Homo sapiens: one gene and its partner. Each later gene encodes a partner of the first gene's protein in a complex. Each region holds a gene or a part of one and is shown in the gene's direction. Other genes may lie near its edges. The genes, in order: ALKAL1 and LTK.

Region 1 (16,149 bases):
AAAAAGTTGTGTCTGAGGTTGTAGTAAAAAGAAAAAGTTCAGAGTAAAATGTAACACACCAAGTTCTAGAGAGACATGGATGTGAAATATTTTATTGCTGTAAAAAGGGGCCTGATTCCATAAACTCTACAATATGGTTTAATCATCTTGGGAGTTCCAGGTTTTTATGTTACTGTCCTGACCTGTTCCTCTAATTCATAATTGAATCAAGCTCCTGATTTTCTATCAGATAACCTCAAATCAATAACCTAACCTAATCTAAAACAGGGCTTCTAACCTGAAACATGACTTCTATTTATTTTGATCAGAAAAATAGCCTTGTATCCAAGAACGTACAAAACATGTATACAGATAGAGATGATGATTTTTAAAAATTAAGTTTCGTAATGGTTAAAACTGAGTCCCCCTCCCCCTCCTTCTCCCCTCTTTCTTTCTTTCTTCGGTCTCCCTCTGTTGCCGAGGCTGGATTGTACTGCCATGATCTCAGCTCGCTGCAACCTCCCTGCCTCGGGCTCCCGTAATTCTCCTGCCTCGGCCTGCCAAGTGCCTGGGATTGCAGGCACGCGCCGCCACACCTGACTGGTTTTTGCATTTTTGGTAGAGACGGGGTTTCGCCGTGTTGACCGGCTGGTCTCCAGCTCCTGACCTCGAGTGATCCGGCCGCCTCGGCCTCCCCAGGTGCTGGGATTGCAGACGGAGTCTCGCTCACTCAATGCTCAATGTTGCCCAGGCTGGAGTGCAGTGGCCTGATCTCGGCTCGCTACAACCTCCACCTCCCAGCCGCCTGCCTTGGCCTTCCAAAGTGCTAAGATTACAGCCTCTGCCCGGCCGCCACCCCGTCTAGGAAGTGAGGAGCGTCTCTGCCTGGCCGCCCATCGTCTGGGATGTGAGGAGCCCCTCTGCCCGGCCGCTCTGTCTGGGAAGTGAGGATCGCCTCTGCCCGGCCGCCACCCCGTCTGGGAAGTGAGGAGCGTCTCTGCCTGGCCGCCCATTGTCTGGAAAGTGAGGAGCGCCTCTGCCCGGCCGCCTCGTCTGGGAAATGAGGCGCTCCTCTACCTGGCCGCCGCTTCTGGGAAGTGAGGAGCGCCTCTGCCCGGCTGCCCCGTCTGGGAAGTGAGGAGCACCTCTGCCCAGCCGCCCCGTCTGGGAGGTGAGGAGCGCCTCTGCCCGGCCGCCCATCGTCTGGGAAGTGAGCAGCGCCTCTGCCCAGCCACCCCATCTGGGATGTGAGGAGTGCCTCTGCCCGGCCGCCACCCCGTCTGGGAACTGAGGAGCCTCTGCCCGGCCACCCCGTCTGAGAAGTGAGGAGCGCCTCTGCCCGGCAGCTGCCCCATCTGGGAATTCAGGAGCGTCTCTGCCCGGCAGCCGCCCCATCTGGGAAGTGGGGAGAGCCTCTGCCCGGCCGCCCCATCTGGGAAGTGGGGAGAGCCTCTGCCCAGCCGCCCCGTCTGGGAAGTGGGGAGAGGCTCTGCCCGGCCGCCCCGTCTGGGAAGTGGGGAGCGCCTCTGCCCGGCCGCCCCGTCTGGGAAGTGGGGAACGCCTCTGCCCGGCTGCCCCGTCTGGGAAGTGAGGAGCGCCTCTGCCCGGCCGCCCTTTGTCTGGGAAGTGAGGAGCGCCTCTGCCCGGCCGCCCCGTCTGGGAAGTGAGGAGCGCCTCTGCCCGGCCGCCCCGTCTGGGAAGTGAGGAGCGCCTCTGCTCGGCCGCTCCGTCTGGGATGTGAGGAATGCCTCTGCCCGGCCGCCCCATCTGGGAGGTGGGCAGCGCTTCTGCCCAGCTGCCCCGTCTGGGAGGTGAGGAGCACCTCTGCCAGGCCGCCCTTCATCTGGGAGGTGAGGAGCGCCTCTGCCCGGCTGTCCTGTCTAGGAAGTGAGCGCCTCTGCCGGGCCGCCCCGTCTGGGAGGTGAGGAGCGTCTCTGCCCGGCCACCCCGTCTGGGAGGTGAGGAGCGTCTCTGCCCGGCCGCCCCGCCTGGGAAGTGAGGAGCACCTCTGCCCAGCCACCCCGTCTGGGAGGAAGTGAGGAGCACCTCTGCCCAGCCGCCCATCTTCTGGGATGTGAGGAGCACCTCTGCCCGACCGCCCCATCTGGGAAATGAGGAGCGCCTCTGCCCGGCCGCCCCGTCTGGGAAGTGAGGAGCGCCTCTGCCCGGCCGCCCCGTCTGGGAAGTGAGGAGCGCCTCTGCCCGGCCGCCCCGTCTGGGAAGTGAGGAGCGCCTCTGCCCGGCCGCCCCGTCTGGGAAGTGAGGAGCGCCTCTGCCCGGCCGCCCCGTCTGGGAAGTGAGGAGCGCCTCTGCCCGGCCGCCCCGTCTGGGAAGTGTACCCAACAGCTCCGAAGAGACAGCGACCATCGAGAACAGGCCATGATGACGATCGCGGTTTTGTCAAAAAGAAATGGGGGAAAATGTGGGGAAAAAAAAGAGAGATCAGATTGTTACTGTGTCTGTGTAGAAAGAAGTAGATATAGGAGACTCCATTTTGTTCTGTACTAAGAAAAATTCTTCTGCCTTGGGATGCTGTTAATCTATAACCTTACCCCCAACCCCGTGCTCTCTGAAACATGTGCTGTGTCAACTCAGGGTTAAATGGATTAAGGGCGGTGCAAGATGTGCTTTGTCAAACAGATGCTTGAAGGCAGCATGCTCGTTAAGAGTCATCACCACTCCCTAATCTCAAGTACCCAGGGACACAAACACTGCAGAAGGCCGCAGGGACGTCTCCCTAGGAAAACCAGAGACCTTTGTTCACGTGTTTATCTGCTGACCTTCTCTCCACTATTATCCTATGACCCTGCCACATCTGCCTCTCCGAGAAACACCCAAGAATGATCAATAAGTACTAAAAAAACAAACAAACAAACAAAAAAAAAAACTGAGTGTCAACTTGATTGGATTGAAGGATACAAAGTATTGATCCTGGGTATGTCTGTGAGGGTGTTGCCAAAAGCGATTAACATTTGAGTCAGTGGGCTGGGGAAGGCAGAACCACTCTTAATCTAGTGGGCACCATCTAATCAGCTGCCAGTGAATATAAAGCAGGCAGAAAAATGTAAAAAGGCTGAGAGAAGAGAGACAGACCCTCTCATATTGTTTTATACTCAGAAAAGAAAAGCGAAACAAAAGGCAGGTAGCCTGGCGCCTAGGAACCAGACCCGAAACCAGGCCTGGGCCTGCCTGACCTAAGCCTGGTGGTTAAAGATCGACCCCTGACCTAACTGGATATGTTATCTATAGATTCCAGATATTGTATGGAAAAGACATTGTGAAACTTCCTGGTTTGTTCTGTTTCACTCTGACCACACAGCGCATGCAGCCCCTGTCACATACCCCCTGCTTGCTCAATCGATCATGACCCTCTCATGCAGACCCACTTAGAGTTGTGAGCCCTTAAAGGGAAGAGGAATTGCTCACTCAGAGAGCTTGGCTCTTGAGACAGGAGTTTTGTCCGAAGCTCCCTGATGAATAAACCACTTCCTTCTTTAACTCGGTGTCTGAGGAGTTTTGTCTGTGGCTCGTCCATCAGCTGCCAGTGAATATAAAGCAGGCAGAAAAATGGAAAAAGGCGAGACTGGCCTAGCCTCCCAGCCTACATCTTTCTCCTATACTGGATGCTTCCTGCCCTCAAACTTTGGACTCCAGAATTTTTCAGTTTTGAGACTCGAACTGGCTCTCCTTGCTCCTCAAGCTTGCAGACAGCCTATTGTGGATCTTGTGATTGTGTAAGTTAATACTTAATAAACTAATATATGTATATATCTCTATCTATCATCTATCTATCTATCATCTATCTATCTATCTGTCTATCTATCTATCATCTCTATCTATCTCCTATTAGTTCTGGCCCTCTAGAGAACTCTGACTAATACAGATTTTGGTACCGGGAGTGGTTCTAGAGGAACATAATATTAAGGATGGAGTTCTTTCGTTGGTTTTGGGGTTTCTGGAGTTGGTTGCTTAATATGATTAGATCTCAAAATGCTAAGGACTCTACTTCTAATAGTATGGAGAACACTGATAGTCCTTGGCATGAACTGTTTAGATAATTATGCAAAATAAATGTATTTGACATTCCTGATTCACTGCTCATGAGAGGCAAGGAGTTTAGTGACTCTATACATAATACCTTTGACCATATGTGGAGACCCAACAAACATAAAGAAGCTGGTTGCTTGCTCCAAAGTTCAGTGGACAAAGTGATGAAAGAAAATGAGGAACTTAGGGATTCTGTCTCCTGACTTCAGAAGCAGATACTGAGCCTGAAATCTACTAAGATTGCCCTGAATGAGAGCCTTATCTCATGTAGAGAAAGAGCTGAAATTGTGGAAAGACAGACACAAGCTCGTATCATGCGAGTGGCTGATCTGCAATGAAAGGTGCGTGCACAGCCTCACCAGGTGTTTACTGTTAAAGTGAGGGCATTGACTGCAAAAGAATGGGACCCTGCAACTTGGAATGAGACGTGTGGGAGGACCCTGACCCAGAGTTTGTAAACTCTGATGAACCTTTTTTTCCAGAAGAAACAGCTTCTCCATCCCCAGTAGTGGCAAAATCCCCTCCCTTACCCATGCTGCCATCAGCCTTTCCACCTTTGTGTGAGAAGATAAACCTTGTCCTGCCCGAGGCAACAGTGATGGCCTCCCCGAAGCAGTTTCCAGGCAAAATAATGTTGATTCTCCTTAGGAGCCAGCCCCAACACTCCTGTTTGTTTCCTGACCTATAACTAAAGTCCTCACGAGTCCCTAGAGGTGAGGTTGAGAGTGTGACCCATGAGGAGGTGTGCTACACTCGAAAAGAACTGCTTAAGTTCTCTAATCTATATAAACAGAAATCTGGAGAACAGGCATGGACATGGACATTAAGGGTATGGGATAATGGTGGAAGGAACATAGAGTTCGATCAGGCTTAATTTATTGATTTGGACCCACTAAGTAGGGACACTGCTTTTAATGTTGCAGCTTGGGGAGTTAAAAAAAGGTTCTAATAGTTTATTTGCTCAGTTAGCTGAAATATGGATTAAAAGATAGCTCACTGAGAGCAAGCTGGAAATGCCTGATCTCCCTTGGTTTAATGTAGAGGAGGGACTCCAAAGGCTTAGGGATATTGGGATGGTGGAGTGGCTTAATTACTTTAGACCTACTCATTCCAGCTGGGAGGGTCCAGAAGATATACCCTTGACCAATGCATTGTGAAATAGATGCGTGAGGGCAGCACTTGCATGTTTGAAGAGCCCTGTAATTGCTCTTTTCTGTATGTCAGATCTAATGGTGGGAACCACAGTCATTCAACTACAAAATTTAAATACAACGGGCATAATTGGATCCCAGGGAGGCAGGGGCCAAGTGGCAACACTCAACTGTCAAAGGCAAGGTGGGCGTAGCTACCATAATGGACAGCAGAGGCAAAGCGGCAATCGGAATAGTCTGACTTGTGTAGAGCTCTGGCATTGGCTAATTAATCACAGTGTTCGTAGAAGTGAAATTGATAGGAAGCCTACTGCATTCCTTCTTAATTTCTATAAGGAGAAAAATTCTAGGTTGAATGGACCAAAGACTAATTTGAATTATAAAAACAGAGAATCATGGCCTCTCAATCAATTTCCAGATTTGAGCCAGTTTTACAAACCCAGAACCCCTTGAATGAAGGGGAGGCTGGGTCCCCTTGAGGAAGGACCCCACTACATCACTGACAATTTAGGCAGTGAATTTTTTCCCCGCCCTTCCCCAAGGAGACCTCCAGCCTTTCACCAGGGTAACTGTGCATTGGGAAAGGGAAATAGGAGACCTCCAGCCTTTTACCAGGGTAACTGTGCACTGGGAAAGGGAAATGATCAGACATTTTGGGGATTACTGGACCCTGACTCTGAGCTGATGTTGATTGCAGCGGACCCAAAATGTCATTGTGGTCCTCCAGTTAAAGTAGGGGCTTATGGAGGTCAGGTAATTAATGGAGCTCTAGCTCAGGTCTGACTTACAGTGGGTCCCCAGACTCATCCTGTGGTCATTTCTCCAGTGCCAGAGTGCATCATTGGCATAGACATACTTAGCACCTGGCAGAACACCCACATTGGCTCCCTAACTGGTAGGGTGAGGGCTATCATGGTGGGAAAGGCCAAATGGAAGCCATTAGAGCTGCCTCTACCTAGAAAAATAGTAAATCAAAAACAATATTGCATACCTGGAGGAACTGAGGAGATTAGTGCCACCATCAAGGAATTGAAAGATGCAGGGGAGGTGATTCCGATTCCCACCACATTCCCATTAAACTCTCCCATTTGGCCTGTGCGGAAGACAGATGGATGTTGGAGAATGACAGTGGATTATTGTGAGCTTAACCAAGTGGTGACTCCAACTGCAGCTACAGTACCAGATGTGGTTTCATTGCTTGAGCAAATTAACACATCTCCTGGTACCTGGTATGCAGACATTGACTTGGCAAATGCCGTTTTCTCCATTCCTGTCCATAAGGCCCACCAGAAGCAATTTGCCTTCAGCTGGCAAGGCCAGCAATATACCTTTACTGTCCTACCTCAGGAGTATATCAACTCTCTAGGTTTGTGTCATAATCTTATTCTTGTGATGGTTAATACTGAGTATCAACTTGATTGGATTGAAGTGAAGAGGTGAGACTGGCCTAGCCTCCCAGCCTACATCTTTCTCCCATGCTGGATGTTTCCTGCCCTTGAACATCGGACTCCAAAGTTCTTCAGTTTTGAGACTTGGACTGGGTCACCTTGTTGCTCAAACTTGCAGACAGCCTGTTGTGGGATCTTGTGATTGTGTAAGTTAATACTTAATAAACTCCTATATATATGTAGGAGTTTATTAAGTATTATATATATATTTACATATATCTCTATATTTATATGTGTGTATATATATGTATATATCTCCTGTTAGTTCTGTCCCTCTAGAGAACCTTAATACAAGTTTATATTACCAATATTACCAATATTTTGGGGGAGATGTAGCAATGGATTTTTCAATTGTGACTTTTAAAATTCTGGTTTTAAAAATGTTTAAGAAAATCAACTATATTAAATATGTGATTGTATTTTGAAATGTTTAATAGGGTTTGTTGGTGTTAAATAAGGAAACTTCACTTGTTTAATTTATTAGCTAAGTTGTAAAGAAAATAAGTGCCTTGAGTTTCAAGGCTTAAAACAGCTTGTAACAGTTACAGTTTTAAAAACTTTGGATTACTTTAAACATTAGTTACTAAGTACCCATTTCTACACAGAAAACCCTTCCTTATATACTAAATAAATTAGCAAGTGTTACTGAGGGAATGCCCACATGAACACTTCAAGTTGCCTCTAAACTAATTAGCAAGAGGCAGGGCAAGCAGCATTTAGTTGGGGCAGTTAGAAAAGTAGTCAAAGATATGCAATGAACAAAGAACAAAAGCAAAGAGTGACTTAGCTATACGTAACCTGTTTATTTATGATAAAAGCACTGTGTTGAGGAACTAGATCCCTGAAGTTAGATGCTCCACAAAGATGAGGATTTTGTTTATTTTACCCACTGTGGTGGCTCCGCTGTGTTTCCACTGCCTGGTCCACAGTGTGCGTTCACATCATTTTTGTTGAATGAATAAAGGTGGGTTTCAAAGGACCACTTGCTTCAGAACTACCCAGAGTCCCTTAAAACGCAGATTTACAGGATCCTCCTGGGGGACTGCGTCCCCAGGGGTTTGGGAACCTGCATTTTTTTTACAGCCTCTCCTTCACATGGTACACAGTGTGAGAACCACTGAAGTTCAACCTCTTCACCTTGCTAGAGAGAAGACTAAGTGTTTTGCTCAGGGCCCCATGGCTAATGACAGCTGAAAGTAGACCCCAAACTGTCAGGCTTGAAAACTTCATTGCTTTGTTTATTTCCTCTAGCTTTCAACGTAGAGGAAGAGGGAAATAATTCAGCTTCCAGGTTTTGCTGTCTTTTGCTCCGGATAGATGGTTGATTAAAAAGTCCATTTGTCATGGTTTCAGTATCACTTATTCTCCAGCATTATTTCATACTGCATTTCCCCATCGTTTTTCGGACTAGTCCCTATTTTTTTATTTTCCAATTAAAATTAATTTTTGAACTGCCTGTCAATGTCTGTGAACTTCTAATGTTTTCTTATTTCACTTCAGTAGAGCTGTGAGAAAGCGTTTATTCCACCTAAGTAGGGCCTTCAGACCCTTAACCTGTTTTTCTAGGAAGACTCTTGTGGGTCTCCCTTGGTGGAAGCCATTCTCTTACACTGCTGTGTTTGCTTAGGAAATACCAGATTCCTATGCGTGCTTAACAGTGAAACGATTGGAAGAAGCAGTCTTCACCTGTGTAACAACTTCCTCAAAAGAGCTTCATCCAAAGGCACGATTTCACAGGGCTCCTGCAAAGCTTGCTTTGCTTCCCAATTTCTTAGGCATGTTGGACATGCCAAGCCTAGATAAACTATTTGAAGGAGTTGAGGTCATTATTCAGGATCTGTGACCCACAAGATTTCTTTTTGTAGAGTAATGTAACGTTGGGCACCGCCTAAGGAGTAATGGAGCCTCAGTTCCCTTAGTTATTCCTGCCTTTTTCCTTTCACCTGTTTGCACTTTGCATATGAGGAGATAATTAGTAGTCAATTGATTAGCGAGCAATTTCAACATTTTTCAATATACTTAACATAAAGCAATAAAGCAGGCGGCTGAAACAACTAAAACAACAACAGTTTACAGAGCGCGGTTTGATCAGAGAGGCGCACTTTAATCAGAACGACTGGCCTTAATTTCATTTTTTAAGTTGTTAACACTAAAACTCTTTATAAGAGTTCCCTAATTTGAAGAAAAATCCAGCCGGCTGCTTTTTTGGGCGCACTGGTCAACCTTGGCGATTTCACCTGGGGAAGCACTGAAACCGGCCACTCCCCCCAGGGAGGCCAGGGGAGCTGGGCGCGTGTCCCCGGTGCCCAGCCCCAGACCTCTTCCGCCCGCCGCTCCCCCACGCGGAAGAGAACGCGGTGCTGCGCCTAGGAGAGCAGGTCGGGCCTCCAGACCTGGGGCAGGGGCGGCTGGCGTGACGGCGTGGCCAGTGTTCCTGAGCGAGCAGGGGCTCGGCAGCAGAGCGCACCCCGCACCTTTGAGCCCAAGGCGCGGAGATCTCCGCTCATCCAGGCCGCACCCCGGCCCTGCTTTTTTCCGTCCGGACCTAGGCGCCGCGGGTTCTACTGACCCCGCCAGCCAGGGGAAGCCGTGACGGACCCCGAGGCTCGGGGGGTGGAGGCGGCGGGAGACAGAGCCCAGGGAGAACCGCCGGGGCGACGCGGCAGTTACCCTACTGGGTCCTCCCGGGGACGGCGACCAGAGAGCGAGCCCGGGGTCCGGATCCGAGGCAGGCGTTGCGCAGGGAGCCCTGAGACCCGCTGAGTCCGAGGCTGGTGCCCGCCCGGCCCAGCGCGGACTTCCGAGGGTCCCGCGCGCTGGGACACGCCCTCATCCTGGGGGACGACCCCGTGGCCCCAGGCACCGCCTCCCGTTCCCGCCCCGCGCCCCGCAGCGCTTAGGCTTCGGCACACTGAGGACCGAGTCCCAGTGCAGCTCCAGCCGACCCCCGGGACGTAGACAAGGGCAGGCGCGCGGTGAAGACTGCGGCCGGCCGCGTAGCCGCGCTGTGGTCCCGCTGGCCTTCTCTTGGGCCGCGCACCCTCCGGACCTGCGTCGGGATCCTCCCGGAGTCTCCCGCTCTCTCCTCCCGGCTTGCGAACATGCGGCCCCTTAAGCCCGGCGCCCCTTTGCCCGCACTCTTCCTGCTGGCGCTGGCTTTGTCCCCGCACGGAGCCCACGGGAGGCCCCGGGGGCGCAGGGGAGCGCGCGTCACGGATAAGGAGCCCAAGCCGTTGCTTTTCCTCCCCGCGGCCGGGGCCGGCCGGACTCCCAGCGGCTCCCGGAGCGCAGGTACGATGTCCCCATCCCGCCCCATCCTTTGCCCTGCGCCTGGGGCTCCGTGGATTCCCCTAGGAGCTGGGCGAGGCACTCGCTTTGGGAAGCCTGAGATTAGTACAGCAGAAAACAGAGCATCTCTGCAGATTCCCAGCTCTCGGAAAGAGGTCGTAAGCGAATTAGATTTACCACGGTTGAGAGTTAAGTAAAGAAATCCGGCTGGCAATGGGATCAGCTTTCTATGTCCCTTCCCAGGTGTAGGAGGACTTTTTGGAAATAAACTGGTAAAGCAGCTCAAAGACATGGGTTTCAGTCCCACCGACCGAGGGGTGGTGGACAGGTTAGGTCCCTGTCAGCACCCCATTTCTGGATCTTCCGGGGTTTTGAGAATTAACTAAGATTGCTGTCCGTAGACACCTGACCGTGCCAGGAATGCCCCTTTCCCCTCCCCTTTCACGCTGGCCGCAGCGAGTGGCTGAGGAAGCGCCAGTTTCAGCAGGCGGCGGCTTATGTTACTGGCACCTTTCCTAGATCATTTTAGAAGGGCAGCCGGCTGCTCCCAAATCAACTTTGGACAGTCAGGTTCCTGCTACTTAGATGCCCGAGGGGAGTGGAAGGAATGAGGGAGGAAAAAGTCGCTGCTCTAGAGGGTCATGAGACATCCACAGGCAGAGAAGTCGTGTGAATACGGGGAACACGGAAAAGCCCCTGGAAAAGGAGGTCCGAGGGGGCGGCCGGGCACTTGGGGCAGCGCTGGAGGGAGGAGGGCAGGACACGCAGGAAAGGAAGGTGGGGACAGAAGCGAGAAGCTCCTCACACGTTTCTGTTCACACCCAGCAAGAGCAGAGCAAGGTGAAGCTGCCGGCGAGGCTGGGACAGAAGGGCCCCTCTGCGGGGACATTTGGTGGCCTCCACCGGGCTTGGGAAGAGGAGAGGGCCTAGGGTGGCCTGGGGATGCCTCGCAGCTAGCGGCTGGCCGTGGGACCACAGCTCCTGATCCCTTCTCCTCAGGCTTTATGGCTAAGAAAGCAAACAAGGGCTTCTTAGTATGATTTTTCTTTCACAATAGTTGTGATATAAATATATACTTATTCACTCCACAAACTTTCTTCGAGTTCCTGTCTGTCACCATGCAGAGGGCGGAGGCCACCCAGAGGAGCAGACAGCAGTGTCTGCACTCTCCCACACACCTGGGTGTGGAAGGAGGCGCTGGTGCACACCTGCACTAAGTGAGCAGGGTGTCCTGCCCTGGGGAGGGGATGGAGAAGGTGGGAGGCTGAGGTGGGCTGCCCAGCTGGTGTGTGGACAACCCGGGCAGAGCCTCTCAGTCCAGCCGGCCACTGGGGAGCCCTCAGGAGGGGAGGGCACAGGGTCAGTGTCCGCAGCACGGCCATGCAGCAATGGTGCACACAGATCATGCACTTTGACTTAAAATTATTGTTAGCCTAAAATATTTATCTCAGAGAATAAAATGTCACTTTGGAATGTGAAAGGACTGGGAGAAAGGCTCTCAAAGTACAGAAACATGGAGGGCACACATTCATTCAGACCTTCTGTTTCATTCAACAGATCTTTTCTCTTTGATTCAGACAGTGAAGACTTACTGAAGTGAGTTACAAGGGATAAAACAATATTTTATTTATTTATTTAGAGACGGAGTTTCGCTCCTGTCTCCCAGGCTGGAGTGCAGTGGCGTGATCTCGGCTCATTGCAACCTCCGCCTCCCGGGTTCAAGCCATTTTCCTGCCTCAGCCTCCCACGTAGCTAGGATTACAGGCGCACCACCACGCCCGGCTAATTTTAATTTTTATTTTTTTGTAGTTTTAGTAGAGATGGGATTTCACCATGTTGCGCTAGGCTGGTCTCGAACTCCTGACCTCAAGTGATCTGCCTGCCTTGGCCTCCCAAAGTGCTGGAATTACAGGCATGAGCCACTATGCCCGGCCATAGTTAAAAGCGGCAACCATCTGAAGTTTTAAACAACAATATAGTCAGACAGAAAGTGCCCTGTGGGCACCCTTAAAGCCATTGCTTTCTGTGACTGTAGTTGTCTAATTTTTTGATTGCTATACTACATTCACAAGGGGAGAAAAGGGTGGCTCATGACATCCGTATCTGAGTCTGTGAATGGAGTACTTGCACATGGATCAGGAACAAACAGGGACATGAGAATATAGAGGACAAGGGCCTATCTGGATGTTCTCACGGGGTGCACTCAGCAGGTGGCAGGGGTTATCGTTCATTCAGGAGGAAAATATCTCGCAGGTCCGGGAGGCCAAGGACTCTCATCTCTGCCAGATGTGCCTGGAATGATGGCCCCATATTTCTGTAGTGACGTAATAAGCACCATCACCCAGGCCTAACGTACCTGTTCTAGGTTCAGAAATCTTTGCTGCCCCTGCACTTGCTCTGTCTGCCTTTTTCTGTAGGCCAGGCAACTTCCCTAAATGCAGATGTGAGCTGGAGGTGGGGGGATCATTTCCAGGTAGAGGGAGTAGTAACCAGGAAACCCTGAGGCAGGAGGGACCAGACAGCATGCCCCGAGGATTGCGGAGAGTGGGGGACTGTGTTAGGTTCCCAGGAACACTCCTGATTCACCGTCCTTGGCCCTCCTTCCTTCTCACAGCCCATTTGTTCGTGCCTGTATCCGTCCTCTCATTTAGCAATTTAACACACAGCTGAGGTCGTTGGGATGGGCAACATTGTTGACCATTGTGCTTGAGGAGCACAATTCAGTTCATAATTCCTGCCTGCGATGTCTCTCGAATCTGGGTCTTCCTTTTTAGTGTCCTTCCCACCACTCTAGTTCAGACCCTCTTGAGAGTTTTACGGTGACCTTCTCGATCATCTCCAACTCTATTAGTGCCCCTGACAGTGTGTCCTACTGGGATAAGAATTCCCAGTAACCTTCGCTCCTGCTCTCTCATTCCTCTTTCCTCCTCCCTTTGTCTTTGGTCACTGCGCCACCAGCAGGATGGCACAAACAAGGGACCATACCTCAAACCCTGCCAAAGGAAAGAAACATCAGAGCACTCACCCACTGAAAGGAAAACAGAATCAGAAGGCTGAGAATAGGGCCGTGGTGGGAGTAGAGAGGAGGTTCAGTTTTTGACAGAAAGGAAATTGGCTTGAGATGTGGGAGGCAGCAGTGTAAGGGTACTGTTAGCAACTATTGATGTATATGATGTTTCTTTTGCTACCTCTGCCTTTTCAAGAGATTTCAGTAAATGTTTACCTTATTTCTACAGGCTTTCTGGAGTCAGATTTGTGTTGTTGTGCTTGCTGTTGCTGTTTTAATATAAAACCTCACTGACATGGAGCTTAAGGAGAGAATGTGAAGGGGTTTTGATGAGGTTATGCTGAACAATGGCAAATCAACGTGCTTAATAAGTAGCATGGGGCTGGTCTCTTCCTGGTCATAAATCTGCTGTGGTTTCTCTTGATTTTCCAGGAAGGTCCTAGCTTCCTTGGAAAGAAAGGCAGATATTCAAGTCCTTTTGTGCCACCTCCTCTTACCTTTCGGCAGCTCTCAGGAGCTACTGTAAGTGCCTCTGTGCCAGTCCCAGGCTTGGTACCCCCTCCTTACAGAGGCCATTCTGCCTGTGCTTAACGCTATTCCTCCCTCTCCTGAAATGCACTTCTCTTACCTCTGCCTGCTGGAATTCTATTCATCCATCTAGGCCCCCTTCCTTTGTACTGTCTTTGCAGTTCGGTTATTTATGCGTTCAGATGCGTCTTAAACCATAAATTCACTTTGCAAATATCCCCAAAGATCTGATGAAAGTTAAAAAAAACTAGACATACTTAAATACTGCAGGGGCTTGCGTAATAGTGGGATTTTATTTGTACAGCCCAAATTCTCTCTATTGCAAGTCTGTGGCTATTATATCTGCCCACTTAGACAGTTATACCTGGTGAGTAACAATTTATTTCACATAAATAATAAAAAATTTTTGCTGCTTTGCATATCACCTGGGAGGGGGGTATGGATGGGTACTTTTTTTTAAAAATCATTTTTTGTTGTATATATTTAAAGTGTGCAACATGATATTTTGTTATATGTAGGCACAAGAAATGATTACTACAGTCAAACAGATGAACATAGCCATCATCTTCCATTTTAATATTTTTATTATGTTATTTGCAGGGTTACTTGAAGCTATTTATTTTACTGAAAACTGTTAGTATGGGGAGAGGTCAAAGTGAAAAGGTTATATATGATTTTTCACCAAGTAGATTTGGCAGGTTATATATATGACCAGACGTCTGTTGGGCATGGGGCTGCTAGCTAGCAGGATCATAAATACTCATTCTGAGATGCCAAAGCTAACTTAGAGGAATGAGTTTCTGCCCATTCACAGTATTTCTTGTAGGAATTGTGGCCTTTCTGCAGGAGCCTATTTATCGAGCTGCTAAGTGAGGAAATTCTGTGCAGAGGTCAACAGAATCACCCACTGTGGGGTTCTCTTTGCCTGAAATGACCCAGTCCCAGGAGACTACTTTCCAATCACATATTGGTTAGGAAAACCTAGGATTAAAACAATTCCTTTTTAATGGCAATTTTTTTCTTTGGCCTTCAGTTTTATTGCTGGAAATGACATTTGAGAGCAGATTTCTAAGATCTTTGTTGCTGTGTAGGAGGATAGAAAAACGTGGCCAGGTGATATTTCCTTCGACTATTTGCCATTGTAGAAAACGTCACAGTAGTGGGTAGTAAGTAGAGTGTCTGGAGTTTAAATATTTCTTATAACTCCATTTATATATCTAACAACATAAACTGCCAGGAAATAATAGCTACAATATTTATATCATACGTGAAAGATGTGTAGTCTTTTACATATTAATAAAATTAAAATTTTATTAAATGTGTTTTACTTGGAGTTATTGTTAGGCTTTTTGATTTGATGATATCGTTCATTGATGATTTCTTTCTCTGTTGAACACAGATAGCGTTTTTTTCTTCCTACAGCACACCTCACACTGAAACTCATATTAGTTTGATATTATATTATTCTATTTGAATGTGAGCCTCTTTAAGTTGAAGACTAGGGGTTACTCGGTTTTTAATATCCCATAGCCTACCAAAGTCATTGTGTAAATTCTTCTTTTAGGAAGAATTACTTTTTTCAGAAGAAATTGAATTTTAAAAAAGAAACTTTGCAGGTTTCTTTAACTTTGAAACTAAAATAATTTGAATTTTAAAATATTTATTTATTGATTTATAGATACATAATTGTGGACATATAGAATTAAAATTTTTATTTTCCCCAAAGCTAAAGCAGACCTATTGTCTTATTTACTTCCTACCATTATGAGGCATAAGCTAACTTTTTGGCATTTGGTTATATTTAGACAATACAGTATTTACTGTCCTTAATACCTTCTAGAGCAGTAGTTGTTAAAATGAGGCTCCTGGGATCATCTGTTTCAGAACCAGCTGAGAGGCAAGTTTCAAATGTAATTCTTGGACTTCACCCTGGATATAATAAATCTGTATGAGTGCAGCTTGTAGATCTGCATTTTAACAAACTCTTTGAGAATTCTCATGTACCTTGAATTTTTGGGACCATCAGAATTTTTTTAACTAAGGAGAGTGAGGAGGAGAAAGGTGGCATATTGGAATCTCTTGGAAAGTTTCTTCCAGATAGAGATGGTTTCTATCTGCCCTCCCCAAACCCAGCCACACTCCTCTGGTTCAGTAGCTCACTGTCTGCCCTCCCTCCATCCTTGCATGTACCCACAGCTCTACAGCTATACGTTCCAGTGTGTTTTGAAAGATAACCTGTGAAAAAAGGCTTCCTTGGTCTACCAGCTTTGGGAACATAACGATTAAGCCCCCTTTTTTAGAATCACTATACAAGCATGCTCTGGTTCGGATATTTGTCCTCTCTGAACCTCATGTTGAAATTCGATCCTCAGTGTTGGAGGTGGAGGCTAATGGGAGGTGTTTGGGTCATGGGGGTGGATCCCTCAGGAACAGTTTAATGCCCTTCCTGGGAGGTGGTGGGAGTGAGTTCTTGCTCTATTACTTTTCTTGAGAGCTAGTTGTTAAAAAGAGCCTGGCCCCTCCCCTGCCCCTTGCTCCTGTCAGGCCACGGGTTCTCTGCACACAGCGGCTCCCCTTCACTTTCCATCATGAGTGGAAGCAGCCTGAGGTTCTCCCCAGCTGCCGATGCCCAATCTTGAGCTTTCCAGTCACCAGAATTATCAGCCAAGTATGCTTTTTTTTCTTTAAAAATTACCCAGCC
Region 2 (15,608 bases), on another chromosome or scaffold:
TGCTAGGTGGTATCAGGATTCAGAGAAGGGAAAGATCAAATTGGGCTTTGTGGAAGAAGTGGGGATTGACCCAGGCACTGTAGGTTGGGTAGAATTTGAATTGGTGAGGAGGTAGAAAGGCAGGAGATTCCTAACAGAATAACATAAGCAAAAGGAGCATGACAAAGGGCAGAAGGAGGGAGGAGAGATTTCTGTTGGGAACTTAAGGCTAAAAATAAGAAGTGAAGTCTGAGAGGGCCTCAAATATTAGGCTAAGGACTTAAATTTATAAGCTGTAAAGAGTTACTATGTTTGCCAGGTGCGGTGGCTCATGCCTGTAATCCCAGCACTTTGGGAGGCCGAGGTGGGCGGATCATTTGAGGTCAAGAGTTTGAGACCAGCCTGGCCAACATGGTGAAACCGTCTCTACTAAAAAAAAATACAAAAAATTAGCCGGGTGTCGTGGTGCATGCCTGTAATCCCAGCTACTCCGGAGGCTGAGGCAGGAGAATCGCTTGAACCCAGGAGGCAGAGGTTGCCATGAGCCGAGATCATACCACTGCACTCCAGCCTGGGCAACAAGAGTGAAACTCCATCTCAAAAAAGAAAAATAAAAAAGAGTTACTGTGTTATGGCTGCGTGAGGTGGCTCATGCCTGTAATCCAACATTTTGGGAGGCCAAGGTGGGAGGATTGCTTGAGGCCAAGAGTTTCTGACCAGCTTGGGCAAGAAAGCTAGACACCATCTCTACAAAAAATTATTGGAAAATTAGCCAGACCTGGTGATTTGCCCGTAGACCCAGTTACTCAGGAGCCTGAGGCAGGAGGATCACTTGAGCTCAGGAGGTTGAGGCTGCCAGTGAGCTATGATCACACCACTGCATTCCAGACTTGGAAATAGAACGAGACTCTATTAAAAAAAGAAGTTATTGTATTTTGTTTTTTGTTTTTAAGATTTTGGGTTTTTGTTTTTGTTTTTGAGACAGAGTCTCGCTCTGTTGCTCAGGCTAGAGTGCAGTGGCCTGATGATCTTGGTTCACTGCAACCTCTAGCTCCCAGGTTCAAGCGATTCTCCTGCCTCAACCTCCTGAGTAGCTGGGATTACAGGCACACAGCACCATGCCTGGCTAATTTTTTTTTTTTTTTGAGACGGAGTCTTGCTCTGTTGCCCAGGCTGGAGTGCAGTGGCGCGCTCGGCTCACTGCAACCTCCGCCCCTGGGTTCAAGCGACTCCCCTGCTTCAGCCTCCCAAGTAGCTGGGACTACAAGCACCCACCACCATGTCCAGCTAATTTTTGTATTTTCGGTAGAGATGGGGTTTCACCATGTTGGCCAGGCTGGTCTTGAATTCCTAATTTCGTGTGATCCGCCTGCCTCAGCCTCCCAAGTGCTGAGATTACAGGCGTGGCCCACTACACATGGCCAATTTCATGCTTTTTAATGGCTGCTTCTCAGTTCCCAGTTTTCCCCAACATCTGCTCTGTAGTCTTTAACCCTGATCCTTGTGCTAGAAGGACAGATGTTTGTCTAGGACCTGATCTCTGCCCTCATGATTTGGTTTCATGTGATCGTTATCCACACACCTTATGTATGTATATACATTCCTACCCTCCCCCTCAGCACGTCATTTCCCCTGTCACAGTTGCCTGTGTCCCTGGAGTGTTACACAGTGCCTCCTGAAGACAACCTGGCCCTCCTTCAGCTCTACTTCCGGACCCTGGTTACTGGTGCGCTCCGCCCACGTTGGTGCCCCGTGCTCTATGCTGTGGCTGTGGCTCATGTCAATAGCTTCATCTTCTCTCAGGACCCACAGAGCTCAGTAAGTTACATCTCCATCTTCAGAGGAAGGAAGGGAGCTAGCAATTGAGCTGCCTCTGGGCCAGCTGGGGAAGAGGTAAGTGTCAAGCAAGGCCAGTGGTGGGTACCAGCCCTCGGCTCAGTGCCACCTCTCCCTGTTCTGCTTCTAGGATGAGGTCAAAGCTGCCCGCAGGAGTATGCTGCAGAAAACATGGCTGCTGGCAGATGAGGTAGGGTCAGGGCCATTAGGAGGGTGGGATATTAGAGGATCTTGGGGGACAGAGACCACAACAGGATCTCATTACCCACTTCATAAGTTTTCTTTCCTTTCTGCAGGGTCTCCGGCAGCACCTCCTGCACTATAAGCTTCCCAATTCCACGCTCCCAGAGGGCTTTGAGCTCTATTCTCAGTTGCCCCCTCTGCGTCAGCACTACCTCCAGAGACTGACTTCAACAGTGCTCCAAAATGGGGTATCAGAGACCTAGGATAGTTGATATAGATGGAAAGATGGGTACGTTGTCCTGTATCCAGCCTTTCAACAGATGTCTGGCCAGACGAAGAACATTGTGTCCTAATGGTAGGCAGGAGACCAAGGAGCAGAAGGCTTGCCTTCCTGGGAGCAGGTTGTTTGAGCTGTTTTAGAGCAGTGAGCCCTACCATTACATCCTGATATCTGGGGCTTCTGAAGGTCTGTACTGGGAGTGAAGAGTGGCTTAGCTATTTACCCGCTCTTTGGGGACAGGGCAAACTAAATGCATCCCTTCTTACCTAACTCCCAACCCCTGCCCTGGGCTGAGGCATATGAATGCTATAGTTGTGCATTAAAATAAATGTTTTTTATCTCCTGGAAATTTGATCTGGACTGATTTCAGCCATGTTAGTTCAGGGTTAGTATCTGGGGGTGGGTTATCCCAGGTGAGGAGCAGGACTGCTGTGAGAGAGATGGGGAAGAATCATAAGTGGGAGGTAAAAACTTTGTCCACATCTGGAGACAACAAGAATGTGGGGCCTGCCAGGCACAGTGGTACACACCTGTAGTCCCAACTACTTGGGAGGCTGAGGCAGGATGATCACTTGATTCCAGGAATTCAATTCCAGCCTAGCCAACATAGTGAGACCCCATGTCTGTCTGTCTGTCGGTCGGTCGGTCTGTCTATCTATCTATCTATCTATCTATCTATCTATCTATCTATCTATTTCTGAGACAGGGTCTTGCTCTGTTGCCCAGGCTGGAGTGCAGTGGCGTGATCATAGCTCACTGCAGCCTCGACCTCCTGGGCTCAAGCCATTCTCCCACCTCAGCCTCCTGAGTGGCTGGGACCACAGGCAAGTGCCACCACGCCTGGCTAATTTTTTGTATTTGTAGAGACGGAGTTTCACCATGTTGCCCAGGTTGGTCTTGAATTCCTGAGCTCAAGCAATCCACCCACCTCAGACTCCCAAAGTGCTAAGATTACAGGCATGAGCCGCTACACTTGGCCTATTTTGGTAGTTTCTACATTGTTCTTTGGTCTGAATTCTAAACTTTAGGCTTTCTTAGACTGTCTTTTGCTGTGTGGATTACTTATTGTGTTTGCAAGTAACCAGAGTCAGAGCAGTGTGCCAAGGCCTAGCCCTGTCAGTAGGTAGAGAGAACCCAGTCTTCATAAATGGAGCTGCTGAACACAGAATTATCCAATAGGTTTTTTTGGGTTTTTTTTTTTTTTTTTTTGACACGAAGTCTTGCTCTGTTGCCCAGGCTGGAGTGCAGTGGGGCAATCTCAGCTCACCACAACCTCCCCCTCCCTAGTTCAAGCCATTCTCCTGCCTCAGCCTCCCAAGTAGCTGGGATTACAGGCGCGTGCCACCACGCCTGGCTAATTTTTGTATTTTTAGTAGAGATGGGGTTTTGCCATGTTGGCCAGGCTGGTCTTGAACTCGAACTCCTGACCTCATGATCCGCCCGCCTCAGCCTTCAAAAGTGCTGGTATTACAGGCATGAGCCACTGGGCCCAGCCTTTTTTTCTTTTTTTTTTTTGAGACAGAGTCTTACTCTGTAGCCCAAGCCAGAGTGTAGTGGCATGATCTTGGCTCACTGCAACCTCCGTTTCTGAGGCTCAAGTGATTCTCATGCCTCAGCCTCCCGAGTAGCAGGGGCTACAGGCATGCACCACCACACCGGGCTAGTTTTTTGTATTTTTATTAGAAGCGGTGTTTTGCCATGTTGCCCAGGGTGGTCTCAGACTCCTAAGCTCAGGCAATCCGCCCACCTCAGCCTCCTAAAGTGCTGGGATTATAAGTGTGAGCCACAGCATGTGGCCCCAATAGGTTTTATTAAGCAACTACTGTATCAGCAAATACCAATGATTCTCAAACTTTGTGACAAAAATCATCTGGAGGATATTTTAAAACAGATCACTGGGTCCTACCACCAGAAGCTGCTGATTCAGTACATCTGGGGTGAAACCCAAGAATCTGCATTTCTAACAAGTTCCCAGGTAATACTGATGCTGATGTTCAGAACAAACCACACAACCACAATTTGAAGAGCAGTGGCTTAAAGAGACTTTGCAAGGTAAATTCTGTGATCTCATAGTGTGATATCTAGTGTTAAGTAGGGCATAGAGACCAGGGTTTTTTTGTTTTTTGTTTTTTTTGAGATGGAGTCTCACTCTGTCACCCAGGCTGGAGTGTAGTGGTGCAATCTCGGCTCACTGCAACCTCTGCCTTCCAGGTTCAAGCAATTCTCTGCCTCAGCCTCCCAAGTAGCTGGGATTACAGGCACCTGCCACCACGCACGGCTAATTTTTGTATTTTTAGTAGAGACGGGGTTTCACCATCTTAGCCAGGCTGGTCTTGAACTCCTGACCTTGTGATCCACCCCACCCCCACCGTCCCCTTGGCCTCCCAAAGTGCTGGGATTACAGGTGTAAGCCACCACGCCTGGCTGAGACCAGACTTTTTACAAAATCACTGTTCTGTTTACACCTTGAATTATACTCAGACTTTACCAAGTAGCTAACTACTATAACTTCTCTTTTGAAGTATTTTGTATTAAACATAGGTCTCAGACTTTCAAGTTAGGATTTTTTTTTTTTTTTTTTTTTTGAGATGGGGCTTTGCTCTTGTTGCCCAGGCTGGAGTGCAATGGTGCGATCTCGTCTCTGCAACCTCTGCCTCCCAGGTTCAAGCCATTCTCCTGCCTCAGCCTCCAGAGTAGCTGGGATTACAGGCGTGCGCTACCACGTGTGTCTGATTTTGTATTTTTAGTAGAGACGGGATTTTGCCATGATGGTCTAGCTAGTCTCGAACTCCTGACCTCAGGTGATCTGCCCGCCTCAGCCTCCCAAAGTGCTAGGATTACAGGCATGAACCACCGCACCCGGCAAATGATCATTTAAGCAAATGATCGAAGACTCAAGACACAAAACTACCTGAAGGGAGTGGCTCCCACATTTGTAGGGTACCTTACAGAGCAATTTCCCTTCATATGATTTTGCAGGTGGTGGGGAAACTCTCAGGGCAGTTGTGGCCTGTGCTACATCACCCATTGACCAGAGGTGCCAGTACTAGTGCTCAAGATCAATCGATCGATCGGTCTACCTACCTATCATCTATTGACCTTCAGTGCTACTAAAAACACTCGGATCTTCTAACGTCTGGTCCAGTCTTTCACCCCATCACAGTGAGAGGCTGTGCACAGGGGTAACACAGGCAACGGAATTATATGAGGCAAACACAGAGATCCAGGTTTCTGGGAGTAGCAATGAGGTTCAGCCTTGCAGTCACAAAGGCACCACTAAAAGGCACAAGTAATGGCAGGTAATGAGGCCTTACTTGGAGCAGTTTAGAGTACTTCCCACGTGTGGTGACGCATGCCACACACTCACCACCACCACCACTGCCACAAATGAAGTGCACACTCCACTGCTCCTGTCCTCAGGAACCTGGAAGCCCCCACCTGGTGTCCGAGGTGTGGCTCCCACTTTAAGCGTGGGGCACCTCCTCTCCGGCCTCAAACCTACCGGAGCTCCCAGCAGGCTGCGGCACATCTGACGGCTGGAAACTAGAACCCCTGGGTGGGGACTCCTTAAGGCTCCTCCCGGAAGCGTAGGGACCTCGCTGCCCACACGCCCCTCCCTTTCCTCCTCTGGCGTCCTGGGGTCTGAGGTGGGCGTGGCCAGACCAGCTTTAGGTCCGGGGAGTGTCTCGCCAGCGGCAGCACACCCCTGTAAGTGGTGGCCAGGGCTGCCGTGGCAAAATGAGCTGTCAACTTTAGGTTGACAGGGGTGTGGCCGCGACCGCAAGGGCTTTTGTTGCCGGGTGGACCCAACAGGGATGGGCTGCTGGGGACAGCTGCTGGTGTGGTTCGGAGCCGCGGGTAAGTGCTATCTGGCGGTCAGGGGACCGTCCAGCCTGAGGCACTTTCCTAGGCTTGGGGGTGGCCGGTCAACAGGCCAGGTGTCAGTGGTTCCTCCAGAGGCCTCGAACTCTCACAGCCAAATTTCTCCGGTCCGTGCTTCTGGAGTGCGGGCCGAGAAGCGCCAAGTGCGTGCGAATCCCAGAGTCTGGATCACGCAGCTTGGGAAGGAGGAACATTCTTTGGGGTCTCAGCACCGCCTTGGGGCGGGGCCACCAATCTAAGTTGAGGAAAGCATTGGGGAGGCTGCAGGACCAAATTCATTGCGGCCCCTAAGTTATTCACTGGGAAAGGCGCTCGAGGAGAGAAACTGGCAGACCTATCAGCGCGCACCCGCGGGGCTTCTGCGACCGGAGTCGGGTAGTGGCTTCCAGGCTGAGAGCGCGGCTGGGCCGGGTGACGGGTGTGGCCGCGACCGCAAGGGCAGCTGTTGCGGGGTTCTCTCTTTCTTTCATATCCTATTTCCACCCGCCTTAACGTCCTGCGCCTTCTCCCAACACCTTTCAGGCGCCATTCTCTGCTCTAGCCCGGGGTCCCAGGAGACTTTTCTGCGGTCCTCGCCCCTGCCGCTGGCAAGTCCCAGCCCCCGGGACCCGAAAGTCAGCGCCCCGCCTAGTATCTTGGAGCCAGCCTCCCCGCTGAATTCTCCGGGTGAGCTTTAGACGCCTCCTTCCTCTTTCGCTCACCATACCAGACCCCTCTGGCCCAGCCAGGGGCTCGACGACCCTTGCCTCGCTCCTTGCTCTCAGGCACCGAGGGGTCTTGGCTGTTTTCTACCTGCGGGGCCAGCGGCCGGCATGGGCCCACACAGACACAATGTGACGGGGCGTACGCGGGGACCAGCGTGGTGGTGACCGTGGGGGCCGCCGGGCAGCTGAGAGGCGTGCAGCTGTGGCGCGTGCCGGGCCCTGGCCAGTATCTGTAAGTGCACGGCGGAGGTAGGGTGGACAGTGACCTGCTAGTTGGAGGTTTCACCCTCAGGGTAACGAAGTCCACGTGCGCACCGACTTGCGTCTTGGACTATTCCGCGGGGAGGTCCACCTTGAGTGCCCTTCAAGGTGGCAGTAGTCGCCACCGAGTTAGCCCTTACCCGGAACCTCTTACACCGAGCGGAAGGCCCCCAACCAGGGCGGCGCCAAGGGGTGCTTGAGCCTCCCCACATTTCCACGAACCCTCCTGAAATAAGTGTAATATCTGATTTTTCGGTGTGCAAACCTACCCTTCCCATCCCGTCAGAGTCGATTGCAGCCTCCAAGTCCCTCAGATAAAAAATAATTCTGGAGCCTCCTCTGTCGCCAACTTCTGCCCGGAGCGGCCGGCCTGAGCACCGAAGGCCGGGGACTCACCGTCCGTTCCCCGCAGGATCTCAGCCTACGGAGCCGCGGGCGGCAAAGGCGCCAAGAACCACCTGTCGCGGGCGCATGGCGTCTTCGTCTCAGCAATCTTCTCCCTCGGTCTCGGGGAGTCGCTGTACATCCTGGTGGGGCAGCAGGGAGAGGACGCCTGTCCCGGAGTGAGCGCAGCCAGTGGGGATGGGGCGGCGCCGGCGCCGGGGGCGAGGGCTGCCTGGGGGCCGGGGGAGCGTGCTTTCCTCGGTGCCGGGTCACCAGCACAGCGAGGGGAGGCTCCCGGGCCCCGCCGATTCCCTCCCCCGCTGCCCGCAGGGTAGCCCGGAGAGCCAGCTCGTCTGCCTCGGGGAGTCTCGAGCCGTTGAAGAGCACGCGGCGATGGATGGGAGCGAAGGGGTCCCGGGGTCGCGGCGCTGGGCGGGAGGTGGCGGGGGTGGCGGGGGCGCCACCTACGTTTTCCGGGTACGTGCTCCCTTCGGCGCTCAGCGTTGGGGTCCCAATCCTCTCCCCAGGGGCGCTCACGCACCGGCTCTCCGTCCGTCCCTTGGGGTCCCCCTATCCCTGCGCTGGGCTGGGCTGGCCTGGGCTGGGCTGGGGGCCCCTGCCCTTATCCAGGCCCCCTGGGCGGGAGCCCTCTCCCAGTGGCAGTGCCCCTGGACAGCTGGAGGGCGCTTCCTGGAACACGCCGCTGGCCCCACAGGTGCGCGCTGGCGAGCTGGAACCGTTGCTGGTGGCGGCCGGAGGCGGCGGTCGGGCCTACCTGAGGCCGCGGGACCGAGGCCGGACTCAGGCCTCCCCCGAGAAACTGGAGAACCGCTCGGAGGCGCCCGGGAGCGGCGGGAGAGGCGGGGCGGCAGGTGAGGGCGCGGGCCGCGGGGAGAGGCGGGCGTGCTCCCCGTGTGGCTGCCAACCTTCCTGCTGTCGCTCTGCAGGTGGTGGGGGCGGCTGGACGTCGCGGGCTCCCTCTCCGCAGGCCGGCCGCTCACTGCAGGAGGGGGCGGAGGGCGGCCAGGGCTGCTCCGAGGCTTGGGCGACCCTTGGCTGGGCCGCGGCCGGCGGCTTCGGGGGCGGCGGCGGGGCCTGCACTGCGGGCGGAGGCGGCGGCGGCTACAGGGGTAGGTGCACCGTTGGAGAGGGCAGCTGAGCAGGCCCGAGGGTGAGGTGATGTTAGAACCTAAGTACAGGCCGGAGCCCTCGGGAGGATAGGTGTGGGAGAGGCATTAAGCCCTGCTCAGCAGCTCCAAACAAAAAGCAGGAGCTCTTAGAAAAGGAGGTCAAATACACTGCAAATCAGCATGCAGACAGGACTCCCTAGATTTCCGTTTAATCCAGGATCTTTCCCATCACAGCAGGTCCCTGCCTTGTTCTGCAGCAGTCTTCAGAACTTAGAGCTGGCCGAGTGAGCAAGCTGAGCAAAGGGGCAGAAAGGCAGGATTGGGTTAAGTCAGTGGTTCTCAAAGTGTGGTCCAGGAACAGGTAATATCCCCACAACCTAAGTTGTTCGAAATGCACATTATCAGCTGGGCCTGGTGGCTCACGCCTGTAATTCTAGCACTCTGGGAGGCCAAGGCAGGTGGATCACCTGAGGTCACCAGTTCGAGACCAGTCTGGCCAACCTGTGAAACCCTGTCTGTACTAAAAATACAAAAATTAGCCGGGCGTGGTGGCGGGAGCCTGTAATCCCAGCTACTCTGGAGGCTGAGGCAGGAGAATTGCTTGAACCTGGGAGGCGGAGGTTGCAGTGAGCCGAGATCACTCCATTGCACTTCAGCCTGGGCGACAAGAGGGAAATTCTGTCTCAAAGATTAAAAAAAAAACAATGGAAATTATCCTGGGAGTTGGGGGAAGGTTGGGGAGATGCTGGTCAAAACAATGCAAAATGGCAGTTAAATAGGAGGAATACCTTCCAGAATCTACTGTACTACATGGTGACTGTAGTTAATGACGATGTATTCTTGAAAATCGCTAAGAGAGGCGGGGCGCGGTGGCTCACGCCTGTAATCTCAACACTTTGGGCGGCGGAGGCGGGTGGATCTTGAGGTCAGGAGTTTGAGGCCAGCCTGGCCAATATGGTGAAACCCCCATCTGTACTAAAAATACAAAAATTAGCCGGGCGTGGTGGCATATGCCTGTAGTCCCAGCTACTCGGGAAGCTGAGACAGGAAAATCGCTTGAACCCGGGAGGCGGAGGTTGCAGTGAGCCAAGATCGTGCCACTGCACTCCAGCCTGGGTGACAGAGCAAGACTCTGTCTCAAAAAAAAAGAAAAGAAAATTGGTAAGAGCGTAGATTATAGGTGTTCTTACCACAGAAAATAAGCATGTGAGGTGGTGTATATATTGGTTTGCATTAGCCATTGCACAGTGTGTACATATTTCAAAACATCATGCTGTATACAATAAATATATGAATTTTTTTTTTAGATGGAGTCTGGCTCTGTTGCCCAGGCTGGAGTGCAGTAGTACAAATCTCAGCTCACTGCAACCTCCGCCTCCCGGGTTCAAGCAATTCTCCTGCCTCAGCCTCCTGAGTAGCTGGGATTATAGGCATGCGCCACCATGCCCGGCTAATTTTTGTATTTTTAGTAGAGATGGGGTTTCACCATGTTGGTCAGGCTAGTCTCGGACTCCTGACCTCGTAATCCGCCCATGTCGGCCTCCCAAAGTGCTGGGATTACAGGCGTGAGCCACCACACCTGGCCCTGAATTTTTATTTTTAATTAAAAATTAATTTTTAAAAAGAAATGCGAATTCTCAGCCCTTCTCTAACATACTGAATCAGAAACTGTAAGGGAGAGTCCCAGTCATCTGTGTTTTGATCAAATAACTAGTGTAAATGCCTTTGTGCCTGTCTGGGCTGTACTGCTCATACATACACACATGATCTACATTCTCACAGAAAGGGACTGTGAGGACATGGGACAGGAGGGGCTCAGGCAGGCAGGAGGCATCCCAGCCAGCCTCAGCGAGGCCTTCAGGCTCCAGCTGATTACCCCCTCCTCACCTCCTTCACTCCCACTTGTGAACAGACAGCATTTGCATCATGATGCTGGAGAAGAGAGGGCCACACTGGGATTTCCACCGGGAGATTCCAGCTTCTCCCCCATCCCCCATTTTTGTAGTCAAACTCTCCATCACTCTCCACTTCCAGGGGGCGACGCTTCAGAGACTGACAACCTCTGGGCTGATGGGGAAGATGGAGTATCCTTCATACACCCCAGCAGCGAGCTCTTCCTGCAGCCTCTGGCAGGTATTGGCCCCAACCCCACCTCTGAGCCTGGCCTGGACTTCTTCCGCAGTCCCTGAGCCCACTCCTGCACTGCACTGAAGAGCCACCTGCACTGTGAATAACCTTGCATAGCACAGGATTCTTGCATAGCATAGGGTCATTTGAAAAGTGGGCTGTCATCATGCCATTGCACTCCAGCCTGGGCGACAAGAGCAAAACTCTGTCTTAAAAAAAAGGAAAGTGGGCTGCCAGTCGTGCTGGATGGCAATGCAGGGCATGCTGCGTGCTTTTCAAGTACCCCCTTGCTATGAATTCGCTTCAAATACCTGGGAGTGTGCAGGCTTGACAGAAGTCCCCCAGCTTCTCTCACCACCCTTGTAAGCTTGGTGCTGCTCTTTGCTCTAAAGTCCTGGGCTAGAATTAACCATGTGGCTGGAAAAGGCATGTATTTATTTATTTATTTATTTATTTATTTATTTATTTATTTTTATTTTTGAGACAGAGTCTCGCTCTGTCACCCAGGCTGGAGTGCAGTGGTGCGATCTTGGGTCACTGCAACCTCCGCCTCCCGGGTTCAAGTGATTCTGCAGCCTCAGTGCTGGAGTAGCTGGGATTGCAGGCGTGCGCCACCACACCCGGCTAATTTTGTATTTTTAGTAGAGGCGGGGTTGGCCAGGCTGGTCTTGAACTTCTGACCTCCGGTGATCCGCTCACCACGGCCTCCCAAAGTGCAATGATTATAGGCGTGTGCCACTGTACCCAGCCAAAGGCATGTATTTACTATATCCCAGCCCTACCACACCATATCATATCAGTTCTTTTACTCACAGTCACCGAGAACCACGGAGAGGTAGAGATCCGAAGGCACCTCAACTGCAGTCACTGCCCTTTGAGAGACTGCCAATGGCAGGCAGAGCTCCAGCTGGCTGAATGCCTGTGCCCAGAAGGCATGGAGCTAGCTGTGGATAACGTCACCTGCATGGGTATGTCCTACCTTTGCCCAAGGTCTGGACTCCTGGGGTCACAGACTGGGAGGAGCAGTAGGCCACTGGGAAAGATGGTATAGAGATTTGCTGTGTGCCAGGCCCTGTGGTGGGTGCTGGGCAGGGGATTGGAGATTCATCGGTGCACAGTGCCTTTCAGAGGCCTGTCGTCCAGTGTGGGAGGATGTTTAGATATAGCTATGTAAATGTATATCTCAAGTGACGATTGTTGTGGGAGGTATAAAGTGCTTTAGGGGTGTTCAAGAGGGAGAGGTTGCTTTTGCCCAGGATAATGGGGGAAGGCATCATGGAAAAATTAACACTTGAGCTGAGTCTTGAAGCGTGGGTAAAACTTGAGGGTAAAGGAACAGAGAAGACCTTCCCACTGGAGGTGTCTCTCTTTCTCCCTAGACCTGCACAAGCCCCCAGGCCCTCTGGTTCTGATGGTGGCTGTGGTGGCAACCTCAACACTGAGCCTCCTTATGGTGTGTGGGGTCCTGATTCTGGGTACGAAGCGTCTAGCAGGCACAGTTGATTCAAGGCTGCTCCTCTCCAGTGAGCTGGGATGGGTTTCTGCGGGGTCCCGGGGCTGACTTCAAGACCACTCACCGCAGCAGAGCCGTGGTAGACTCCTCTGGGATTCTAAGATAGGAAGGAGCTGGGGAGGCCTGGGGAAAACGTTTACCTTAATGAGCATCTGGAGGGGTGTCCTGGGCAGGTGGGGGAGGGAGAGTTGATGGGCAGGTGGAGGGTGTGCCGTTATTCTTCCCACCCCCAGTGAAGCAGAAGAAGTGGCAGGGCCTGCAGGAGATGAGGCTGCCGAGCCCTGAGCTTGAGCTGAGCAAGCTTCGAACCTCTGCCATCAGGACAGCCCCCAATCCCTATTATTGCCAGGTGGGGCTTGGCCCGGCCCAGTCCTGGCCTCTGCCACCAGGTGTCACCGAGGTTTCCCCAGCCAATGTTACTCTGCTCAGGTAAGTCTTCTGCCTCCTTCTGAGAACCTATGCACTCTGAATCCCCACCTCTGATTCTCTCCCTGCTGTAGTGAATTATAAGTCCCAGAAAAAATCTGGCCCACATCCCTTGTGTAAGGGAGAGGGAGGCCCTGAGAAGCTCCAGAAGGGGAAGTAACTTGCTCAATGTCACCTCTCCGTCCCAGTTCTTAGAATATGATCTCTCAGCTGGGCGTGGTGGCTCACACCTGTAATCCCAGAACTTTGGGAGGTCGAGGCAGGCAGGTCACCTGAGGTCGGGAGTTCGAGACCAGCCTGACCAACATGGAGAAACCCCATCTCTACTAAAAATACAAAATTAGCTGGGCATGGTGGCGCATGCCTGTAATCCCAGCTACGTGGGAGGCTGAGGCAGAAGAATCACTTGAACCTGGGAGGCGGAGGTTGTGGTGAGCCGAGATTGCGCCATTGCACTCCAGCCAGGGCGACAGAGTGAGACTCTGTCTCAATAAAAAAAAAATATGATCTGGCGCCTGTAATCTCAGCACTTTGGGAGGCCAAGGCAGGTGGATCACCTGAGGTCAGGGGTTCGAGACCAGCCTGGCCAACATGGTGAAACCCTGTGTCTACTAAAAACACAAAAAATAGCTGGGCGTTGTGGCGCTTGCCTGTAGTCCCAGCTACTCGGGAGACTGAGGCAGGAGAATCACTTGAACCCGAGAGGCAGAGGTTGCAGTGAGCCGAGATCGCGCTATTGCACTCCAGCCTGCATGACAGAGTGAGACTTCGTTTAAAAAAGAAAAAAAATCATGACTCTTGGAGCCCAGGGATTGCCTCCCGCCCAGGGCGTCTGCAGGGACCAGGGAAGTCCTCATCATGCACTCCCACCTTGACTCTGGCCCGCATCTGCCCTCTTTTTTGCCCTGGCTCTATGCCAGTGAGCACCACCCTTGCAGGGCTTCTACCTGGGGACATGCCATGGTATGGAGAGAGTCTATATAGGGTCAGCTGGGCATATGGCAGGGGCAGGGGAGGTAAAGGGGGTACTAGACTCTCTAGGACTCTTCTCCAGGCCGCCTGCCCACTCCCTTCCAACGTGTCTTCCTGCAGAGCCCTGGGCCATGGTGCCTTTGGGGAGGTGTATGAGGGACTGGTAATTGGCCTTCCTGGGGACTCCAGTCCCCTGCAGGTAGCTATCAAGGTGAGAGGAGTGGGACTTCTGGCTGGGGGTAGGAGAGCGGAACACCCTGAAGGGAAGGACAATGACTAGAGCTAGGGTTAACCCCCTCTCCTGAAGCGTGCAGGGCAGCTCAGAAACTGTGCCCTTTTCCTCCCCAGACCCTGCCAGAACTCTGCTCGCCTCAGGATGAGCTGGATTTCCTCATGGAGGCCCTCATCATCAGGTGCACCTGGGACCAGGGGCAGGGCTGGAAGGCGGGAGGGGAATGCCCGGGAACAGTTTCTCTTCACCCTGAGGCTGAGGTAGCAAGTCAGGGGACACAGAGGGCCTCTCCAGCTTTGTGGAGCCTAAAACATGGTTTCCGTCTCCCTCCTGGTAACGGGATATGTCCCCCACCCCACTCAGCAAGTTTCGCCATCAGAACATTGTGCGGTGTGTGGGGCTCAGCCTCAGGGCCACCCCTCGCCTCATTCTGCTGGAACTGATGTCTGGAGGGGACATGAAGAGTTTCCTGAGGCACAGTCGGCCACACCTGGTGAGACCCTTGTCTTAGCCCCCCCAGGCCCCTCTAAAGACCCTGTCCATGTGTCTGAGACCTACATGGACTGATGCCCCCTCTGCCTGACCCAGGGCCAGCCATCACCTCTGGTCATGCGGGACCTGCTGCAACTGGCCCAGGACATAGCCCAGGGCTGCCACTACCTGGAGGAAAATCACTTCATCCACAGGTTAGGAGCAGTCCTGGCTCAGGGGACCCCCATCCCAACTCCCTCCCCAAGGAACAGCCCTTCCACACAGCTTTTAAGGAAATAGATCAGGAAGAGCAAGAACTTCTAGATTCTGGCAGTGATTTTTTTTGCCTACTCTGTAGGGATATTGCCGCCCGGAACTGCCTGCTGAGCTGCGCTGGACCCAGCCGAGTGGCCAAGATTGGGGACTTTGGGATGGCACGAGATATCTACCGGTGCGGGACTTGGGAGGTGGGAAGGCTCTTGCTCCAAGGGGGTTTTCCCCGCACCTTGGTGGTGAACAACTCATCATTCACCTCCTCCCTCCTGTAGGGCCAGTTATTACCGCAGGGGGGACCGGGCCTTGCTCCCAGTCAAGTGGATGCCCCCAGAGGCCTTCCTGGAGGGCATCTTCACATCCAAGACAGATTCCTGGTGATAACACCCTTCCCCTCCCCTTCCCCACTGTTCCCCTCCCCTGAGGCTAATCCTGTCCTTTCCAGCCACCTCATGTGAGGGGAGGCTACACCTGACGGGCCTCACTTGGTTCCCCCACTTGTGATGCAGGTCTTTTGGGGTGCTGCTCTGGGAGATCTTCTCACTGGGCTACATGCCCTATCCTGGGCGCACCAACCAGGAGGTGCTGGACTTCGTCGTTGGAGGAGGCCGGATGGACCCTCCTAGGGGCTGCCCAGGGCCTGTGTGAGTTGAGTGCTGCCCGGGAAGGGAGGTCCTTCACAACCATGGGTGGGCATGAACTCCTGCCTCTCCCCAGGTACCGCATCATGACCCAGTGTTGGCAGCACGAGCCTGAGCTCCGCCCTAGCTTTGCCAGCATCTTGGAGCGTCTGCAGTACTGCACTCAGGTGTGCCCCCGACCTAATCTAACATCCTGGTCTTGTGGGTCAGGAGGGAGGGCCAGAAAACTCTATGCCCCCCTGCTCCCTGACTCTTCCATTACAGGACCCGGATGTGCTGAATTCACTCCTGCCAATGGAGCTGGGGCCCACCCC

What was found.
Region 2: the proteins of ALKAL1 (region 1) and LTK are in contact, whole or in part, in a crystal structure (PDB 7NX0), measured with the Homo sapiens proteins. Residues at the interface, in NP_997296.1 of Homo sapiens: His93, Arg96, Leu97, Asn100, Thr101, Arg102, Glu103, Arg112, Arg115, Leu116, Arg119, Leu120, Ser123; in NP_002335.2 of Homo sapiens: Tyr124 (codon at 7,548), His140 (codon at 7,596), Phe143 (codon at 7,605), Ala250 (codon at 8,315), Ser251 (codon at 8,318), Pro252 (codon at 8,321), Glu253 (codon at 8,324), Leu359, Phe360, Leu361, Gln362, Leu364, Ala365, Val366, Glu368, Glu372, Glu374, Arg376.

What each region holds. Positions count from the first base shown.
Region 1 is NC_000008.11:52,558,834-52,574,982, reverse strand, and holds the start of ALKAL1 (ALK and LTK ligand 1 precursor), read left to right. Parts: upstream 1-9,552; 5' UTR 9,553-9,726; coding exon 9,727-9,916; intron 9,917-16,149. UniProt on the Homo sapiens protein: Cytokine that acts as a physiological ligand for receptor tyrosine kinase LTK, leading to its activation. Monomeric ALKAL1 binds to LTK, leading to LTK homodimerization and activation.
Region 2 is NC_000015.10:41,504,195-41,519,802, reverse strand, and holds the start of LTK (leukocyte tyrosine kinase receptor isoform 1 precursor), read left to right. Parts: upstream 1-5,975; 5' UTR 5,976-6,093; coding exon 6,094-6,136; intron 6,137-6,682; coding exon 6,683-6,826; intron 6,827-6,924; coding exon 6,925-7,096; intron 7,097-7,537; coding exon 7,538-7,688; intron 7,689-7,839; coding exon 7,840-7,986; intron 7,987-8,224; coding exon 8,225-8,381; intron 8,382-8,394; exon of another isoform or gene 8,395-8,456; coding exon 8,457-8,639; intron 8,640-10,673; coding exon 10,674-10,772; intron 10,773-11,566; coding exon of another isoform or gene 11,567-11,581; coding exon 11,582-11,734; intron 11,735-12,145; coding exon 12,146-12,241; coding exon of another isoform or gene 12,242-12,289; intron 12,290-12,339; exon of another isoform or gene 12,340-12,358; intron 12,359-12,512; coding exon 12,513-12,708; intron 12,709-13,797; coding exon 13,798-13,888; intron 13,889-14,025; coding exon 14,026-14,090; intron 14,091-14,272; coding exon 14,273-14,402; intron 14,403-14,497; coding exon 14,498-14,595; intron 14,596-14,738; coding exon 14,739-14,831; intron 14,832-14,928; coding exon 14,929-15,030; and 6 more. Other genes in the region: RPAP1 (RNA polymerase II-associated protein 1), read left to right, coding at 1,621-1,797, 1,946-2,005, 2,112-2,261. UniProt on the Homo sapiens protein: Receptor with a tyrosine-protein kinase activity. Following activation by ALKAL1 or ALKAL2 ligands at the cell surface, transduces an extracellular signal into an intracellular response.